Regions from separate parts of the Homo sapiens genome. Here regions 1, 2 and 4 are each linked to region 3. The links come from fine-mapping of genetic effects on gene expression. A gene starts in region 3. Each other region holds a variant in brackets. All regions are shown on one strand. Distances are from middle to middle.

Region 1 (5,000 bases), 56 kb after region 3:
CCATCTTAATTGAAAAAAAAAAAGGAATAGCTAGATACAAACATACACATACTTAATAGGCAAGGGAATCTACGGAGTTGATACAAGCCTTGTTCCTGCAACCAGTCCCGAGGCCGCAGTGTTTCACAGTCCCGAGGCCGCAGTGTATCACAGTCCCGAGGCCACAGTGTATCACAGTCCCGAGGCCGCAGTGTATCACAGTCCCGAGGCCGCAGTGTTTCACAGTCCCGAGGCCGCAGTGTATCACAGTCCCGAGGCCGCAGTGTATCACAGTCCCGAGGCCGCAGTGTTTCACAGTCCCGAGGCCGCAGTGTATCACAGTCCCGAGGCCGCAGTGTTTCACAGTCCCGAGGCCGCAGTGTTTCACAGTCCCGAGGCCGCAGTGTATCGCAGTCCCGAGGCCGCAGTGTTTCGCAGTCCCGAGGCCGCAGTGTATCGCAGTCCCGAGGCCGCAGTGTTTCGCAGTCCCGAGGCCGCAGTGTATCGCAGTCCCGAGGCCGCAGTGTTTCGCAGTCCCGAGGCCGCAGTGTATCGCAGTCCCGAGGCCGCAGTGTATCGCAGTCCCGAGGCCGCAGTGTTTCACAGTCCCGAGGCCGCAGTGTTTCACTGTCCCGAGGCCGCAGTGTATCGCAGTCCCGAGGCCGCAGTGTATCGCAGTCCCGAGGCCGCAGTGTTTCACTGTCCCGAGGCCGCAGTGTATCACAGTCCCGAGGCCGCAGTGTATCACAGTCCCGAGGCCTCGGTGTTTCACAGTCCCGGGGCCGCGGTGTTTCACAGTCCCGGGGCCGCGGTGTATCACAGTCCCGGGGCCGCGGTGTATCACAGTCCCGGGGCCGCGGTGTATCACAGTCCCGGGGCCGCGGTGTTTCACAGTCCCGGGGCCGCGGTGTTTCACAGTCCCGGGGCCGCGGTGTTTCACAGTCCCGGGGCCGCGGTGTTTCACAGTCCCGGGGCCGCGGTGTATCACAGTCCCGGGGCCGCGGTGTATCACAGTCCCGGGGCCGCGGTGTTTCGCAGTCCCGGGGCCGCGGTGTTTCGCAGTCCCGGGGCCGCGGTGTATCGCAGTCCCGAGGCCGCGGTGTTTCGCAGTCCCGAGGCCGCAGTGTATCGCAGTCCCGAGGCCGCAGTGTATCGCAGTCCCGAGGCCGCAGTGTTTCACTGTCCCGAGGCCGCAGTGTATCACAGTCCCGAGGCCGCAGTGTATCACAGTCCCGAGGCCTCGGTGTTTCACAGTCCCGGGGCCGCGGTGTTTCACAGTCCCGGGGCCGCGGTGTATCACAGTCCCGGGGCCGCGGTGTTTCACAGTCCCGGGGCCGCGGTGTATCACAGTCCCGGGGCCGCGGTGTATCACAGTCCCGGGGCCGCGGTGTTTCACAGTCCCGGGGCCGCGGTGTATCACAGTCCCGGGGCCGCGGTGTTTCACAGTCCCGGGGCCGCGGTGTATCACAGTCCCGGGGCCGCGGTGTTTCACAGTCCCGGGGCCGCGGTGTATCGCAGTCCCGGGGCCGCGGTGTTTCGCAGTCCCGGGGCCGCGGTGTATCGCAGTCCCGGGGCCGCGGTGTTTCGCAGTCCCGGGGCCGCGGTGTATCGCAGTCCCGGGGCCGCGGTGTTTCGCAGTCCCGGGGCCGCGGTGTATCGCAGTCCCGGGGCCGCGGTGTATCGCAGTCCCGGGGCCGCGGTGTATCGCAGTCCCGGGGCCGCGGTGTATCGCAGTCCCGGGGCCGCGGTGTATCGCAGTCCCGGGGCCGCGGTGTATCGCAGTCCCGGGGCCGCGGTGTATCGCAGTCCCGGGGCCGCGGTGTTTCGCAGTCCCGGGGCCGCGGTGTATCGCAGTCCCGGGGCCGCGGTGTTTCGCAGTCCCGGGGCCGCGGTGTATCGCAGTCCCGGGGCCGCGGTGTATCGCAGTCCCGGGGCCGCGGTGTATCGCAGTCCCGGGGCCGCGGTGTTTCGCAGTCCCGGGGCCGCGGTGTATCGCAGTCCCGGGGCCGCGGTGTATCGCAGTCCCGGGGCCGCGGTGTATCGCAGTCCCGGGGCCGCGGTGTATCGCAGTCGCGGGGCCGCGGTGTATCGCAGTCGCGGGGCCGCGGTGTATCGCAGTCGCGGGGCCGCGGTGTATCGCAGTCCCGGGGCCGCGGTGTATCGCAGTCGCGAGGCCGCGGTGTTTCGCAGTCCCGAGGCCGCGGTGTATCGCAGTCCCGAGGCCGCGGTGTATCGCAGTCCCGAGGCCGCGGTGTTTCACTGTCCCGAGGCCGCGGTGTATCACAGTCCCGAGGCCGCGGTGTATCACAGTCCCGAGGCCTCGGTGTTTCACAGTCCCGAGGCCGCGGTGTATCACAGTCCCGAGGCCGCGGTGTTTCACAGTCCCGGGGCCGCGGTGTTTCACAGTCCCGGGGCCGCGGTGTTTCACAGTCCCGGGGCCGCGGTGTATCGCAGTCCCGGGGCCGCGGTGTATCGCAGTCCCGGGGCCGCGGTGTATCGCAGTCCCGGGGCCGCGGTGTATCGCAGTCCCGGGGCCGCGGTGTATCGCAGTCCCGGGGCCGCGGTGTATCGCAGTCCCGGGGCCGCGGTGTTTCGCAGTCCCGGGGCCGCGGTGTTTCGCAGTCCCGGGGCCGCGGTGTATCGCAGTCCCGGGGCCGCGGTGTTTCGCAGTCCCGGGGCCGCGGTGTATCGCAGTCCCGGGGCCGCGGTGTTTCGCAGTCCCGGGGCCGCGGTGTATCGCAGTCCCGGGGCCGCGGTGTTTCGCAGTCCCGGGGCCGCGGTGTATCGCAGTCCCGGGGCCGCGGTGTTTCGCAGTCCCGGGGCCGCGGTGTTTCGCTGTCCGGAGGCCGCGGTGTATCACAGTCCCGAGGCCACAGTGTATCCCGCAGTGGGCATTTCCAGGGTTCCTCCACCAGCCAGCAGCATCTCATCTGCTTGGGGTTCTTTAGCCAGCAGGCTGACTTATGCTTTCGCTCCCCAGGGGCATGAACCCGAGATTACCCTGCCCTTTATATGTTTATGTTCATGTTGCTATAGCTTTCTATTAGCCTCTACTGTTGGGTAGAAATACTAAAACGCACCTCAGAAAATCCCCTGGGCTCCCACATACACTGAGCCTCAGTGTAGAGCCATGACT[C/G]ACTTTCTACTTGGCATTAGGCATCAATCATCCCAGCTGGTAAAGTCACGTGCTTCTTGGTTTTGTTTTGTTTTTGAGACAGGGTCTTGCTTTGATGCCCAGGCTGGAGTACAGTGGTTCAATCATGACTCACTGCAGCTTCCACCTCCTGGGTTCAGACGATCCTCCTGCCTCAGCCTCCCTAGTAGCTGGGACTGCAGGCATGCGCCACCATGCCCAGCTAATTTTGTATTTAATTTTGTTTTTGTAGATACAGGGTTTTTCCATGTTGCCCAGGCTGGTCTCGAACTCCTTGACTCAAGCAATCTTCCTGCCTTGGCCTCCCAAAGTGTTGGGATTATAGGCGTGAGCCACCGTGCCTGGCCCTGCTTCTCGGTGTTTTGATGCAGTGGAATGAGGACACCAAATTGCCAAGTGGTAGTCTCATTTTCCAAATCAGAGGAACCATCATTGAATTCCTTGGTCGAAACATTCCTTGCTTGAGAACCAAGACTTCTGAGCCATCAGAGCCCGCCACTGTGGGTGGGCAGGCTGCCAAGTTAAAGGCTTATCAGAAGTACCAGTCACAGGAGCCACTGCCCTTCTGAGCCCTGGTTCCTGGACACATGTCGTCCAGCTGCTGGGAAGACAGCGTGATCTGTTTGTCTCTGGTTCAAAGCATACACTTTAATCTGCAGATGAGGCCCTCGAACTTCCATGATGGCGTTTTTCCAGAGGTGCCGTCACTGTCCTCACTTGGTAACAGCACGCTAACCACGTGGCCTGTCCATTCCTTTTATCAGGCGGCACTTCGGGAAAGGGGCCTGTAGTCAGTCCGGTAACTTCTTTTGCTCAGGAGTGAGTTTCTTGCTTGGAAGCCATGTTGTGCGGGACACCATGGCAGCTGGCAAAGCATCTTGGCATGGATGACAGGGCTGGCAGAAGGACTGTGTGCAGGAAAAGCAACCGTGTCTATTCCAATGAGGCCGAGCCCCCTTCTCCTCCATGGGGAACGAAGTCCAATGGCATCAACCTGCTGCCACTTGGCTGGCTGCTTCCCCAGGTGATGGTGTCCTACTGGGAGCTCAGGGCCAGGTTCTTTTTTTTTTTTTTTAATCAGCAGGTCAGGTGCCCAGCAGTGGCAGTGCACAGGTCAGCTCTGGAGGGGGAGGTCCATGCTGCCGTCCATGCCCAGCCTCCACCCTTCCCCCACTCCACACTTGGAGCCCATCAAACATGCACGGGAGAGCTGGGAAAAGAGGCTGATGATGCCTGCAGAGGGGGCAGCTGTGGAGATCTGAGCACCGAGAGCCCCTCTGAAGCGAACAGACCTCAGAGACACCCGCCCGGCACAGCTATCCCCACAGCTGTCCATCTGGTACTTGGTCCCAGAACTCCCAGACACCTTGCTCCCAATCCATTCATTTCCAAGTCCTTAACCATCCTAACCATCCAGCCAGACATTCACAACTGCTCAGGAGTCAGTGTGGATGCATGTATGCAATACTATCCAGGGATTAGGAAGAAGTGAAGGGCTGGAACATGGCGGTAAACCTGAGAACAGTGTACACAAAGTACACGGATTATATGACTCCCTTTCTGTGAACTGTCTGGAGCAGGCACATTCGGAGAGACAGCCAGTGGATTTGCGGTTGCCAGAGGCTGGGGTTGGGTGGGGTGGGCTGGAGAGTCATGGCTAATAGGAACGGGGTTTCTTTTAGAGAGATGAAAATTTTCTAAACTTCAGTTGGGTGATGGTTGCACAGGTCTGTGAATATACTAGGAAGCTTTGAATTATACACTTTAAATAAAGGAATCTTATGGTATGTGAATTATATCTCAATAACGCAGTTTTTGGGGTTTTTTTTTTTTGTTTTGAGTTTCGCCTTTGTTGCCCAGGTTGGAG
Region 2 (5,000 bases), 25 kb after region 3:
ATGTCTTCAGGGAAAACAGGAGTGTCTTGGTCTAGCTCTCAGCGCAGGGACTTTGTGAACATGCACAAACCTCACAGAGATATTTGTGTGTGTGTGTGGACGTGTGTGCGTGTGTGTGCTCCTGCCTGCGTGTGCATTTTTCTGCCAAAGTCCAGGTCCCGCACACATATTTTGGTGTGGGTGGATGTGCCAGAATCTATTCTTACCTTCTCTAATTGTGATCGCAGGTGGTTTGCTTTTATAAATAACAGCACCACTGTTATAAATGTTAATCAAAGGACTTGATTTTTGGAGGAAAGGGGAGAATTATGGGTATGTGTTCTCTTCCAGCATGCTTTTCCTTTTCACGGGACCCAGAATGTCATGTTAAGATGTTCTCAGTCCTTGCATAGACTGTTTTGAAATCCCCGAGCAGCCCATGGTATTATTGTGGATGACACAGGACCCATAAAAGGGGCAGAGAGAGAAACTCGTTCCCCCTGTGGGTCCTGCTGCCTTTCCCACCCTCTCGCGCACAGGGCCTACCCAAGGTCCTCTCCCAGGCACTGCTGCCATTGCCACCCTCTCTGTGCACTGGGTCCTGTGGGTGATGATGGCAGGGTGGTCCTGGAGGTCCCACTACATCCAGAGGAAGCCGTCAGAACCCTGGTTTTATACTGAGACCTCGCTTACTGTGTCTTGAACCCAAAAGACCTTGCAAAGGCCAGTCCTCTGGAGCCTGGTAAATACTGGGTTGAGTTTAACGAGGGAGCTGAGCATAGAGGACGGAAACCCAGGCTTGCAGACCGAGCAGGGAAGCTGGCAGCTCTGCCCCTGCTCCTGAAACAGGTGCTGTTGGATAGACATGGTGCTCACGCCTGTAATTCCAGCACTTTGGGAGGCGGAGGTGGGAGGATCACTTGAGGCCAAGAGTTTGAGACGAGCTGTCTCTACAACAGATTTTAAAAACGAGTCAGGTGTGGTGGTGTGTCCCTGTAGTACCAGCTATTCAGGAAAGTGAGATGGGAGGATCACCTGAGCCCGGGCGTTGGAGACTGCAGTGAGCTGTGGTTGCACAGCACTCCAGCCTGGGCAACAGAGGAGACCCTGAGGCTGATGGATTTCCATGACTGAGCACTATTTAGCAATTGTGCAATTTTATCAGTTGAGCTGTGGGGTTAGAGCCCAACAGCAAAACGACCTGACCTGCATGGCCTTCAAGGCTGTCGGCCGAGCGGGGGCCTGGACCGCTGCTCTGTGGGTTGGGTTGCCTCTGGGGACATCTCCTGAGAGGAGAGCCTGGGATATGAGAGCCTGGGGTGGGCTTCTCCAGAGCTGGGTCCAGCCTGAACAGTGAAGGCATGTCACGTGAGCAGACGGTGTGGATTCAGGTTTCTGAGCTTGGCAAAAAGAAATCTCCCCTCATTTCCACATCACTGTGCCTCCCTGTCTTCAGTGAGCCTGGGCTGCCCCAGGGAGGGGGATGTTTGCTGAGAGGGGTGACGGAGGGCCTAGGTCCTGGTCCAAAGGCTTTCCAAAGTCAATTTTGATAGGAAGTCTGGGTGTGGTGGCTTACCCCTGTAATCTCAGCACTTTGGGAGGCCAGGGTGGGAGGATCACTTGAGCTCAGGGGTTCAAGACCAGCCTGGGCAACAGAGCAGGACCCTGTCCCTACAAAAAATAAAGTAGGCCGGGCGTGGTGGCTCACATCTATAATCCCAGCACTTTAGGAGGCCAAGGCAGGCAGATCACGAGGTCAGGAGTTCAAGAACAGCCTGGCCAACATGGTGAAACTTCGGCTCTACTAAAAATACAAAAAGTTAGCCGGGAGTAGTGGCGCATGCCTGTGATCCCAGCTACTCAGGAGGCTGAGGCAGGAGAATCACTTGAAATCAGGATGTGGAGGATGCAGTGAGCTGAGATCATGCCATTGCACTCCAGCCTGGGCAAAAGAGCAAGACTCTGTCTTGAGAGAAAAAGAAAATTAGTAAAAGTAAAACTTAAAAATGTGTGTGTGTGTGTGTGT[GTGTGTGTA/A]TATTTGTGTATATATATGTGTGTGTGTATATATGTGTATATATGTGTATATATGTGTGTATATATATGTGTATATATGTGTATATATATGTGTGTGTATATGTGTGTGTGTGTATATATATGTGTGTGTGTGTGTGTGTGTGTGTATATATATTTGAGGCAGGGTCTCACTCTGTCACCCAGGCTGGAGTGCAGTGGCATGATTTCGGCTCACTGCAGCCTCGACCTCCTGGGTTCAAGCAATCCACCCATCGCAGCCTCCCGAGCAGCTAGGATCACAGACATGTGCTGCCATGACTGGCTAATTTTTATATTTTTTTGTAAATAAAGTATGGATAGGACTAGACTTTGGCCTTTTAAGCCAACTTTTGGAGTTCACCGTTCATGAGATGTGATGCTGCAGTCAGTTCCGGGGTGAAGAGATGGGAAGAGGTCAACACTCTTGGACTCCTGTGGCTGTGGAGGACCCTGTCCAAGCTCAAGGGAAGACACTGTTTCCCGTTTCACAGCAGAGGCAGCCCCAGGGAGCTTTGGGCCAGGAGGCTACAAGGATGCATGCATCTTCTAGAGAGGGCTCATGGAGTTGCTGAAGGGAGCTGTGGGCCAGCTCCTGTGTCCCCTCTTCCCAGGCCTGTCCGCAGGAATTGCCTGGGGAGGGAGGGTGGGCAAGCTGGAAGCAACCACAGCCCCCCAGGCAGGCGGGACCCTGTCTCCTCCTAGCCCCACCTTCGTAACAGCTGTGGGTGCTGCCTCAGGGGCACCTCAGAAACCCTGAGGGCCCACACCAAGGGGCAGCCCCATGGGCACCCATGTCTTCAGGGCAGCCTCTGTTCTGCCGCAGGACGTGTTTGAGATGAGGTTTGCCAAGATGCCAGATGAGCCCGTGGAGGCACCGGCGCTGCCTGCCCCCGCGGCCCCCATGGTGAGCAAGGGCGCTGAGAGCAGCCGTAGCAGTGAGGAGAGCTCTTCGGACTCAGGCAGCTCGGACTCGGAGGAGGAGCGGGCCACCAGGCTGGCGGAGCTGCAGGAGCAGGTGGGCACTGGCATGCTTGGGTGGGGTTCAGGGGCTGAGGCGGGATTGCTGGCACAGCAGCCCAAGGTCCGTCCCTTTGCATGGTTCCTTCCTCTGCCCCTGTCCCTCAGCAGCCGCGGTAGTGCTTCCCCGTAAAGACACTCGGAGTGCCCTCCCCAGGTCTGGGGTGGTGCGAGCCTAACCCACAGCACACGTGGGTGGCTGCGGGGACACGTGGCTGGGATGTTTCTGGAGACCTGGCGGGCCTCAGGTGGGAGCTCAGGGGTCATGTGTGGTTATGTGTGCCTTGCTCTGCTCCAGAAAGGCCTGTGAGGCACTTGCAGAGGCCACAGTAGTGCCTGGGCTCCAAGCAGTCACTTGCAGTGGGGTGGGGTGCAGGCTCCAGGGTCCTGAGGGCCCTGCCGTGCAGCTGCCCAGCCCCAGTCCCGCTGCCAGGCTGTGCTTCCTCCCCCTTCTCTGCTTTCCTCGTTTGCAGTATGGGACAAATGTCACCCACTCTGAGCTGTCTTGAGGTCAGATTGAGAAAGATGTGAATTGTTTCCCCAGACCTCTGGCAGCCAGCCAGATGCATGATTTCTGGGACCCCAGATTGGGAGAAAATAGAGCAGGGCTGTCGAGTCAGGAGGGGAACAGCATGAATCAGGGCTGCAAGGACAGCGATGGCCCTGCAGTCCCCAGAGTTGGGCTGGACATTTGATTTTGAAGTGGCAAGGACACACAGCAGGGAAGACGGCTGTGAGGTGGCAGCTCCTCCACCCGCCCTCTGTCTTCCTTGCACAGACCACCCAGAGGCAGGGACAGGCCGTGGACTCACATGGGCAGTGCCTCTCAAGGGGCCTCTCCCATGGAGGTGGCTGCAGTGGGGAGGGCGAGGCGCTTGGCACAATGCCAGCTGCAGGGAGGCCCTGGATTAATGCTGGTTGCTGGCAGTGGATTGTTTTAACCCCGGAGTCCTGCGTGTTATCAAATGGCTTCCCAGAAATCACTGATGAAAATCTCCTTTGTGTGGGCATTTAAACTTCTAGAGAGTCCTTCCTTATCTGAACAATGGTAATAATAAAAATGTTAGCTGCCCACCTAATGTAGATGACGGGTTGATGGGTGCAGCAAACTACCGTGGCACATGTATACCTATGTAACAAACCTGCACATTCTGCACATGTATCCCCGAACTTAAAGTATAATACATTTTTTTTAAAAAGTTAGCTGCCCTCACCGAGTCCCTGTTGTGCCACCCGCGCAGTGCTGAGCCTGTGGCCAGGCAGCTCTTCCCCACTGCAGGCGAAGAAGCCGAGGCGGAGAGGGCTCATGACTCACTGGGGGTCACGGGAGTGAGGGGCAGAGCAGGGCCCAGGTGCTCCTGGTTCACCTCCTCACCCAGCTGAGGCAGCTCCGACATCGCCCCAAGCCCCCTCCAATCCCAGGGCGCCACGCAGCCCCAGTGGTGTGGGCCGTGCCCAGCACCTGCTCAGCCGCCCGCTCTTTTCCAGCTGAAGGCCGTGCACGAGCAGCTGGCCGCCCTGTCTCAGGCCCCAGTAAACAAACCAAAGAAGAAGAAGGAGAAGAAGGAGAAGGAGAAGAAGAAGAAGGACAAGGAGAAGGAGAAGGAGAAGCACAAAGTGAAGGCCGAGGAAGAGAAGAAGGCCAAGGTGGCTCCGCCTGCCAAGCAGGCTCAGCAGAAGAAGGCTCCTGCCAAGAAGGCCAACAGCACGACCACGGCCGGCAGGTGGGCTCCAGACCTGCTCGGGCTCCAAGAGCCCAGCGCTCAGCACGCCATGGGGGCTCATGTAGCAGCAGTGCTGGGATTGGGGGCTTTGTGCCTTGGCCACCTGGAAACCAGGGTGATGGGGGCAGGGAGACAGAGGGCCTGATGAGACCTGTGCTGGGAAGTCCGGGGGCCCAGGTGATGCTGCTCAGTTGTCTGCGGGGCTGGCCTGGATTCTGGGCATTGAAG
Region 3 (5,000 bases):
GAGCCAGTGCCCAGGGAGCGCCTGGGTTCCTGCCATACTCCTGGGGGTCACCTTAGGGCAGTGGGAGGCCCATAAGGGTTGGGGGCATTTGGTCAGCAGCCTCAGACACGCTGGCTGGTCAGGGCAGCCTGCTGTGTGCATGTACCTGGGTTCCTTGAGGTCAAGACCAGGCGGAAAGGCTTTTTGTTCTAGCCTTGGGAGGAGTGCAGTGGGGTCTGTGTAAGTGGTGAGGTGGCCATCCTGGTGGTCAGAGTGCTCAAGATACCCAAGGAGATGAGATGCAGACAGCAGGAATGGGTTGCAGCCTCCAAGGTGGCTAACACAGAAGCCTGTAGGTTGAGGAACTGCACCGGGGGTTTGGGGACACAACCAGGATGGTAGTTCTAAGGGAACTGCCTGCAGATCCTCACCTCTCATATTCCCCCTCCCCGACCTTCCTGCGCCTGAGGACTGCACTTTGTCCATTTTGCCAACTAGAAAGGCAAGGCTGGAACCTCGTCCTAGAGCCTTGCCCTGGAGTGTGAGAAGGTCCTGGGCTCCCAGCAGAAACAGAGGGACAGGATTGGGAAAGGTGTTGGCTTCCCCTGCAAACTCTTCCTAAGACCCCGGGGCTTTGGGTCTCAGCCGTCCTGCAAATTGGCTCTGTGACCTTGGGCAGGACCCTTTGCCTCACTGAGCCTGTTTCCTTACCTGTCAGCCTGGAACAGAACACCTGCCTTCTGGGTGAGCATGGGGATGAATTGTCTCTGTGCTGGCACTCACTTTGTGAATATTGCATAGATGTGTGCATTTCAGGCAGTGGAGCTGCTGCTCAACTTGGAACACACCTGGGGACCCCAGGGGCTTGGGGTGGGTGCAGCCCACACAAGGAAACTCGACCTTGCAGTTGGCAGGTTCAGCAGGCACCAAGGAACCTCGTTTTGTTTTTGACGTTTTTATTGGGGTCTAATGTACACAACGTGTAACCACCTTAAGTTACAGCTGGATTAAAATTGATTTATGTGGCCGGGTGCGTTGGCTCACGCTTGTAATCCCAGCACTTTGGGAGTCCGCGGTGGGCGGATCATCTCACGTCAGGAGTTTGAGAACAGCCCAGTCAACACGGTGAAACCCCATCTCTACTAAAAAATACAAAAATTAGCCGGGCGTGGTGGCGGGTGCCTGTAATCTCAGCTACTCGGGAGGCTGAGCCAGGAGAATGGCTTGAACCCGGGAGGCGGACGTTGCAGTGAGCCGAGATCGAGCCACTCACTACACTACAGCACTCCAGCCTGGGTGACAAGAGCGAAACTAACGTCTCAAAAAAAAAAAAAAAAAACAAAAACCAAAAAAACAACAAAACCCCCCCCCCCACAACTTGATTTATGTGTAAACCCGAGTCGTCATCACCCAAAACAAGATGCAAAACGTGTCCACGGGCTGAACCTTTCAAGATACAGAAAAAGGGCCAGGGGTGGCCCTCTCCCGGAATCTCAGGCTGGGAACCTGGTATCTAGTTCCCGCCCCTCACTGGGCAGATGGGGAAACCGGGGCTTGGGGCGAGAAGGTCCCCAGGCAGAGCTGGGAGCACCCCTAACTCTTCGCCAGCTCTGGGGACTTGGCGCCCTCTCCAGCAACAGCGAACTTGGGCGCCCGCGCCCCAGCAAGTCGGGTGGGGGAGATGGTGACACGGAGGGCGCGGCAGAGCGCGGCTCCTCCCCGGGCGGGGCCGACCTGCCCGCGCGCACCGACGCCCCGCCCCCCGCCCCGCGCGCGCGCTCCCGCCAGGCTAATTAGGCGCGCGGTTTGTTTACAAACACGGGCTCCCGGCAGGTGCGCGCCGCCCCGCCCGTGCGCGGCCGGGGTTCGAGGGTGGCTCCCGCGGGCCTCGGGGTGCCCGGACGGGGGCTGCGGTGCTGGCTGCGTGCCCGCTTCTTCCATGCCGTCCTGGGGCACCGGAAAATCCGCCGCCAGGCGCTGTCCCCGACACGGGGTGAGGAGAGCCGTGCGGGCCCGGGCGGGGAACGGCCCACGGGGTCCCAGCGTTGTTGCCCTGCCGGGCGGGCGCCGAGCCCCGCCCCCGCGCGCCCCCCGGGCCAGGCCCGCTCTCGGCCGGGTCGGCGGGGCGGGCGGGGGCCCCCGGGGCGGGGCGCGGCGCCGGCGGGGCCGGGACATGTAGTCCGCGCGCCCGCGGCCTCCCCTGGGCGGCCCCGGCGCGGGCCCGGCCGCGGACTACGACTCCCGCCAGGCGCCGCGGCGCAGCGCATGAGCCCTGCTCGGCTCCGGCGCGTCTATTATGCTGCCGGGGCCGGCGAGCCAAAGAGGAGCCGGCCGCGCGGGCCGGGAGGGGACGGCCGCCGGAGCCGCGAGGCCAAGTACGCCTTTCTCTTGCTTCCTTGCGCGCGCGGGGCGGCGGGCGGCGCGGGCGGCGGCGGGCCGGGCTGGGCCGGGGAGCGCGGCCCCGAGCGCCCCGCGCAGTCCGCCGGCGCGTCCGGGTGAACCGGGCGCCCGGGGCCGCCGCCGCCGCCGCCGCCTTTGTGCGCGGCCACGATGCAACAAAGCGCGGCGGCCGCCCGGGGTCGCGGCGGCGGTGGCGGCGGCGGTGGCGCGGGCTCCGCTCCCCTCCTCCCGCTCCCGCTTGGCCGCCTCCGTCCCGGACTCGGGGCGTCGCTGCGGCCGGGGCGCGCAGCCCGGAGTTGGCGCGGCCCGCGCGCCCCGCGCCAGCCCGGCCTCCGCGCGCCCTCCCTCACGGAAGGGATTTTTTTCCCCCTTTCCTCCGCCCGCCATCTTTCGAAGGGGGAACCCAGGGAGGACGCGGAGGGGGAAGGTGCGCGCGGCGGCCCCGGCCTGCGGCCGTGCGCTCCGCGGGGCCACTTTCCCCGCGCCTGTTCCGCCGGCCTCGCTCCCGAGCCGTTGCTGGGGCCCGCGCCTGGGGACCGTCGCCGCGCGCCGCGGCCGGGGCGGGGGGCAAGGCCGGGCTCGGCCCTGGGCTCTGCGCGGCCTCCTCCCAGAGTTACGGGCCCAGAGCTGACTTTGAGCCCCCCTGAGTTGCCGGATTATTGCACCCAAACCAGGGGGAGACCCAGTTCCCGTTTTGAAATCAGCCTGAAAATCGCTTAATCCGGGCGAGGGCGAGTTGGAGCGGGAGGGACGGGGGTGCTTCCCCTCCTTCCCACTTTTGGGGGGCGCCGGAGTGACAACGTGATACAAGCCCATCCGGGGAGAAATGCGCACCCCGAACCGTGTACACCCACATGGCCCTGGTGGGCTCTCTGTGAATAAAGCTGGGGCGTGCGGGAAGTCTTATTCCACCGGTTGCTCGTTCGGGGGCAGGGCCGGGATGGGGGCTTCGCGCGGCCTCCTTTCCCTGGAGGGCGAGAACTCGGCCCGCCGAGACCCACCGGGGGCAGGGACCCGGCGTCCATCGTGTGGGTTCCTCCGTTCGACCCAATCCTTGAGTGGTTGCGATCTTTAATTTTGGTTGAAAGCTTTCTGCTCAGAAATAGATACTGGGATTTCTCCCCCTTACATTAAACTTGGTCATTGTCTGCAAAAGTTAACCAGGAGGGGAGACTGTAGTGCATTGGTGGGCAGAGTAATTGGGCTGGAACTGCAAGAGGCAGCTTCGTGTGTCCCGTCCTCCCCCGCCCTACCCTGTGAGAAGGAACAGAAGAGGAAAAGAGTTTTCTTTTTACCCTGCTCTTTTGTAGGCTTTTCCCCTTACTCTTTTCTTTAAAATGGAGGGTTTTTTTTTTTTCCTGGGTCCATGTAGTATGCCTGGGGAGATCCTGGAATCTATGCAAAGTTGTATGGCATTTTTCTGGGGAAAGTAGTTTGTTACTGGCTTCCAACGGGGTCTAAGGAAGGTCTGAACCCCTGCAAGGGGCTGGCCTCGGGGGTTAGGGAGCCCTCCCTCCGGGTTCTTCCCTGGCAGCCCTGATGCAGCCTCTCATTTGCAAATAAAGGTCTGTGTTTGCCGTTTTCTCTGTTGAGGCCTTGATGGGTGCTGGTGGTTACTGATCATGAAAGATAAGGCACACGCTGTAACAGGACGGGCTGCAGGCGAGCGAGGGGCATTTCTTTCTGACCTTCCGGGTAGCCTCAGAGGCCCGGTGCCTCAGCAGGGCACCGGGTGCCTGGAAAGACTGTGGGAGCAGCTCCAGCCTGAGCCCTGCCGTTGGGACATCCGGGGAGGAGGGATTTCAAAAGCTTTCTCCGAGTGGGCAGTCACTCCATTTTTATTTTTGTTTTGTTTTTAGAAAGTAGAGTAATTACTTTCCTTTGACAACAGCTCGCGCCTGCTTCGGAAGTGAGTGAGCTTTGAATGAAGGACGGGACTTGCAAACAGTGCCTGCCCTACACTCCGAAGTAGTCATACCCAGAAAGTGAAAGTGGGGGTGTGCAGAGCGAAGCAGCCAGGCCTGCTGCAGCCGGTGCTACCTTCCTCTACCCTCTTCCTCCAGGCTCTGGAGATGCCAGCCGCGGGAGCCCTGTGCACCAGGCGGCAGTGATGGCCTTGTGCGATTCCTGGTGCCACCAGGAAGTGCCACCACTTTCCCTGAGGCATGGTGGCTCAGGGTTTCCCAAGTGGGGTGATTGGCACAAAACCAACAGCTATGCCCAGTTGTCGATGGGAAGAGCCATGTTTTGCTGTGGATACACACGGTACCGGGGCGGGGTATGGGGAACCGGGGCCTACTCTTCCCAGCGTTGCTGCCTGGGAGGTGGGGGCATGCCTGAAGTCGTGCTGCGGGTCTCTTGGTTTTCAAAGCAGTTAACGCAGTTGGTCAGAGGATCCTCCTCTTGCTTCCTTGACCGGTCATCAAAGTATAACTGACCTGACGGGGTTCCTGTCCTAGGCAGGTTCCTTTTTTTTTTTTTTTCTCTTCTCCTCTTGAGATGGAGTCTCGCATTGTTGCCCAGGCTGGAGTGCAGTGGCACGATCTCAGCCCACTGTAACCTCTACCTCCCGGGTTCTAGCAATTCTCCTGCTTCAGCCTCCCAAGTAGCTGGGATTACAG
Region 4 (5,000 bases), 47 kb after region 3:
TAGCTAGGGTTACAGGCATGTGCCACCATGCCTGGCTCATTTTGTATTTTTAGTGGAGACAGGGTTTCACTATGTTGATCAGGCTGGTCTCAAACTCCTGACCTCGTGATCCACCCGCCTCAGACTCCCAAAGTGCTAGGATTACAGGCATAAGCCACCGCACCTGGCTGCACAAAAGGTTTTTAAGGGTGAATGAGTGCCTGCCCATCTCCTTTCCTATCTGTCCTAAAACATTTAATTAGCTGTCTTTCAGTCTTTTGGCTCTAAGTCTCTTGGCCATAGGGATCCCACCAAGGGACAAGATGGACCCAGTGCAGGTAGCACACAGCCCCAGCAACGATATAGGACAAAATAAAAGTTTGGTCATCAATGCCATCTCTGGCAAATCTTGGCCAAAAGAAGGGAATATAAACTAAAAATAAAATCCTAAACTCCTCACTGACTGAACGGATCCCCTCTTGGCCAAGGGGACCTCAGAAAAAACTTAAAACTGAGTTCCCAGCCACGATGGGATAGGAGAGCCCACTCATGTCGTTATAACTCCTCCCTTTGGTGACTTAGAGACAAGGCACTAGCATTTGCGTTAAAATATGTAAGACTGAAAACATAGAAGACTGAAAAACAGACTCTTTATGGCGATAACATACCAAATTATAAATAAGACCTGTGGCTGGGCATGGTGACTCACATCTGTAATCCCAGCACTTTGAGAGTCCAAGGCGGGCAGATCACTTGAGGCTGAGAGTTCGAGACCAGCCTGGCCAACATGGTGAACCCCCATCTCTACAAAAAATACAAAAATTAGCTGGACATAGTGGCGCATGCCTGTAATCCCAGCTACTTGGGAGGCTGAGGCAGGAAAACCACTTGAACCCAGGAGGTGGAGGTTGCAGTGAGCCAAGATGGCACAACTGCACTCCAGTCTGGGTGACAAAGTGAGACTCTGATTCCAAAAATAAATAAATTAATTAATTAATAAGATTTAGGGCCATGCCAGGCACAAGTTAAGTCCTACACCTCTACAATTAAAGAATAAACTCTATTCTCACTGCCACGAGGTTGTTCCTTTTCTCTAGCAGCTAAGTAAGTACTGACCTCAAGATAAACAATGTTAAAACGATTTGCAGCTCATCCAGCTCCAGATGCTAACTGACCCCATTCACCCACCATAACTAGCTTTCTCTTCTTTTGAAACAGCGTCTCACTCTGTCCTCCAGGCTAGAGTGCAGTGGTGCAATCCTGGCTGAGTGCAGCTTCAACCTCCCAGCCTCAAGCAATCCTCCCACCTCAGCCTCCCAAGTAGCTGGGCCTACAGGTGTGCACCACTAGGTGTACCAGTAGGTCCACCCGGGAGGTGGAGTTTGCACCCAGCTACTTTTTGTATTTTTGGTAGAGATGGGGTTTTGCCATGTTGCCTAGGCTGATCTCAAATTCCTGGGCTTAAACAATCCTCCCATCGTGGCCTCCCAAAGTGCTGGGACTACAGGTGTGAGCCACTATGCCCAGCCAACTACAGCTTTCATTGAACAAGAGACTGATTTCAGCAACTTTCTCCAGGTAAGACCACTGACTATGGATTGGTTCCGGCTGGTTCAGAGAGGCTGCATACTTGTGTGCTTTTGTGTCCTGGAAAGACCTTTTTACTATAAGGCCTAATTTTATTTTATGTATGTATATATTTTTATTTATTTGAGACGGAGTCTCCCACTATTGCCCAGGCTGGAGTGCTGTGGTGCCATCTCGGCTCACTGCAACCTCCGCCTCCTGGGTTCAAGTGATTCTCCTGCCTCAGCCTCCCAAGTAGCTAAGACTACAGGTGTGCACCACGGTGCCCAGCTAGTTTTTTTTTTATTTTTAGTAGAGACTGGGTTTCACCGTATTGGCCAGACCTCAGCCTCCCAAAGTGCTGGGATTACAGGCGCGAGCCACTGCACCCAGCCTATAAGGCCTAATTTTAGTACATTTTGATGCTAAGTCTCCACCCCAAGGTGAACATGAGTTGTATGTTACATGCATGTTTGTTCAGTATGCATGTTGTCAGGACCTTCATGAATATTCATAGCTCCTCCTATAACCTGTTGAATGTGTATGTTTAGCCAACCTGTTCAGCATGGAGCTCCTGCCCCAACCCCTCCTCCTTCAGAGGCACATTTTCCAGCCTGTGGGATGGCCACCTTGCTGGCTGTAACCCTTTATGAGAAAGAAAGTCACCCAGGCGCAGTGGCTCACACCTGTAGTCCCAGCAATTTGGGAGGCCAAGGCGGGCAGATCACTTAAACTCAGGAGTTCAAGACCAGCCTGGCCAACATGGCAAAACCCCATTTCTACAAAAAGTACCTGGGCATGGTGAAAGGCACCTATAGTCCCAGCTACCTGGGAGGCTGAGGCAGGAGGGTTGCTTGAGCCCAGGAGGCAGCGGTCGCAGCGAGTCATGATTGCATCACTGTACTCCAGCCTGGGCAACAGAGTATTTATGGATATTGTGGGGTTCTTTTTTCAATTAACAGTACAAATTCAGGAGAATCTCAGACAAATTATTAAAATTAATAAGACAGGGCTGGGCGAGGTGGCTCACACCTGTAATCCTAGCACTTTGGGAGGCTGAGGCGGGTGGATCACGAGGTCAGGAGTTGGAGACCAGCCTGGCCAACATAGTGAAACCCTGTCTCTACTAAAAATACAAAGAATTAACCAGGCGTAGTGGTGGGTGCCTGTAATCCCAGCTACTGGGGAGGCTGAGGCAGGAGAATCGCTTGAGCCCGGGAGGCGGAGGTTGCAGTGAGCTGAGATTGCGCCACTGCACTCCAGCCTGGGCAACAGAGACAGACTGCGTCTCAAAGGAAAAAAAAAAGTCTTTTTGTTCCTGTCTAGCTGCCCCACCCATTGTCTTCATGTTCCTGGAATATGT[G/A]TATAAAAAACAATGGATAGCCAATCAATAGCTTGTTATTTTAATGTAAATTTTTGGTAAACAATTCAGGAACTCCCCTTCTTTTCCTTTAAAAATCCTCTAGTAACCGCTACTAACTGGAGTGGATGTTCAGGGCAACTTGCATGCTCCGGGTTGCAGCCCTCAAGCTTGGCCCAAATAAACTCTCTACTTACATTAATTTTTCCTCAGCTTCTTCCTTTTAGGTTGCAAACCAAAAATAAAATCCTGGCCAGCCATGTTGGCTCATGCCTGTAATCCCAACATTTTGGGAGGCCAAGGCGGGTGGATTGCTTGAGCCCAGGAGTTCAAGATCAGCCTGGGCAGCATGGTAAAACCCCTTTTTAAATAAAAATACAAAAAATTAGCCAGGCATGATGGTGTGTACCTGAAGTCCCAGTTACTTGGGAGGCTAAAGTGGGAGCAATGCTTGAGCCCGAGAGGTCAAGGCTGCAGTGAGCTGTGGTTGCACCACTGTACTCCAGCCTTGGCGACAGAGTGAGACCCTATCTCAAAAAAGTTTTAAGGGCCAGGCACGGTGGCTCACGCCTGTAATCTCAGTACTTTGGGAGGCCAAGGTGGGCAGGTCACCTGAGGTCAGGAGTTTGAGACCAGCCTGACCAATATGATGAAACCCTGTCTCTACTAAAAATACAAAAATTAGCTGGGTGTGGTGGCGGGCACCTGTAATCCCAGCTACTTGGGAGGCTGGGACAGGAGAATTGCTTGAACCCGGGAGGTGGAGGTTGCAATGAGCCGAGATCACACCATTGCACTCCAGCCTGGGAGACGAGTGAAACTCCGTCTCAAAAAAAAAAAAAAAAAAAAGCTTTAAAAAAATAAATAAATAAATAAAAATCCTAAGCCCCTGGTGGACTGAACAGACCCCTTCTTGGCTAAGGGGACCCCAGAGAAACCTGAAAAACAGCATTCCTGGCCATGACAAGAAGGGAGGCTGGACATGTCTCGTTCTCCCCTCTCCCTTTTGGAGTTTAGGCACCACTGGCCAGCATCATTAAAATAGAGGTCGTGAGACTGACAAAACAGACTTTTTTTTTTTTTTTGAGACAGAGTCTCTGTTGCCAGGCTGGAGTGCAGTGGCGTGATCTCAGCTCACTGCAACCTCTGCCTCCTGGGTTCAAGCGATTCTTCTGCCTCAGCCTCCCGAGTAGCTGGGACTACAGGCGTGCGCCACCATGCCCAGATAATTTTTGTATTTTTACTAGAGATGGGGTTTCAACATGTTGGCCAGGATGGTCTCGATCTCTTGACCTCGTGATCCACCTGCCTTGGCCTCCCAAAGTACTGGGATTACAGGCGTGAGCCCCCGCGCCCTGCCAAAACAGACTCTTTATGGCAACAAGATACCAAATTCCAACCAGACCCTTGTATAGCACCACATGACAGATAGCAGACCCTGAAGGAAAGGAAAATATTTTACCTCAAAATATATTTCTTTATTTTTTTGAGATGGAGTCTCGCTCTGTCGCCCAGGCTGGAGTGCAGTGCCACGATCTTGGCTCACTGCAATCTCCACCACCAGGTTCAAGCAGTTCCCCTGCCTCAGCCTCCTGAGTAGCTGGGATTACAGGCGCCCGCCACCACGCCCAGCTAATTTTTGTATTTTTAGTACAGACGGGGTTTCACCATATTGGTCAGGCTGATCTCGAACTCCTGACTTCAGGTGATCCACTGGCTTCGGCCTCCCAAAGTGCTGGGGTTACAGACATGAGCCACCGTGCCCAGCCCCCAAATACATTTCTTTGACATATTTTGGAATGGCCCTGCAAAGCCGTCTTCTGTGGGGGAAATTTGCATCTGTAAAGAATCTCTATTAGGAGCCTGGCCTTTCCTTTCTAGGCGTTTCCCGGATTTAGGAGAAATTAAATGAGAGTCTAATACAGGTGGGTCTGATCTTTTTTTTTTTTTTTTTTTTGAGACAGAGTCTCTGTCGCCCAGGCTGGAGTGCAGTGACGTGATCTCTGCTCACTGCAAACTCTGCCTCCTGGGTTCACGCCATTCTCCTGCCTCAGCCTCCCAAGTAGCTGGGACTGCAGGCGCCCACCACCATGCC

Which allele goes with the higher level. Positions count from the first base shown, and alleles are read on the strand shown. Sizes are in standard deviations (SD) of each study's normalised expression. Not every link is listed here.
For the expression in monocytes after interferon gamma of the gene that starts at base 2,273 in region 3, C is the low allele of the variant in region 1 and G is the other (moderate effect, 0.44 SD a copy in Fairfax 2014).

The links. PIP is the estimated chance that this variant, and not a neighbour inherited with it, causes the effect.
Region 1: its variant is the best candidate, but not a certain one, in a credible set for the expression of BRD3 in monocytes after interferon gamma (Fairfax 2014, PIP 0.70).
Region 2: its variant is the best candidate, but not a certain one, in a credible set for the expression of BRD3 in whole blood (INTERVAL, PIP 0.88).
Region 4: its variant is the best candidate, but not a certain one, in a credible set for the expression of BRD3 in blood mononuclear cells (TOPMed, PIP 0.89).

The regions. Positions count from the first base shown.
Region 1 is chr9:134,009,734-134,014,733 of GRCh38, reverse strand. No RefSeq gene overlaps it. Among named protein-coding and RNA genes, the nearest start is that of BRD3OS, 13 kb to the left of the region's middle. The variant C/G (reference allele first, on the strand shown) is at 3,116.
Region 2 is chr9:134,039,806-134,044,805 of GRCh38, reverse strand. It overlaps BRD3 (bromodomain containing 3), which reads left to right. Exons shown (of 12, transcript NM_007371.4): 8 at 2,855-3,046; 9 at 4,537-4,772. Among named protein-coding and RNA genes, the nearest start is that of BRD3OS, 17 kb to the right of the region's middle. The variant GTGTGTGTA/A (reference allele first, on the strand shown) is at 2,006.
Region 3 is chr9:134,065,299-134,070,298 of GRCh38, reverse strand. It overlaps BRD3 (bromodomain containing 3), which reads left to right and starts at 2,273. Exons shown (of 12, transcript NM_007371.4): 1 at 2,273-2,354. RefSeq lists silencers at 1,668-2,397, 2,578-2,827.
Region 4 is chr9:134,017,842-134,022,841 of GRCh38, reverse strand. No RefSeq gene overlaps it. Among named protein-coding and RNA genes, the nearest start is that of BRD3OS, 5.1 kb to the left of the region's middle. The variant G/A (reference allele first, on the strand shown) is at 2,909.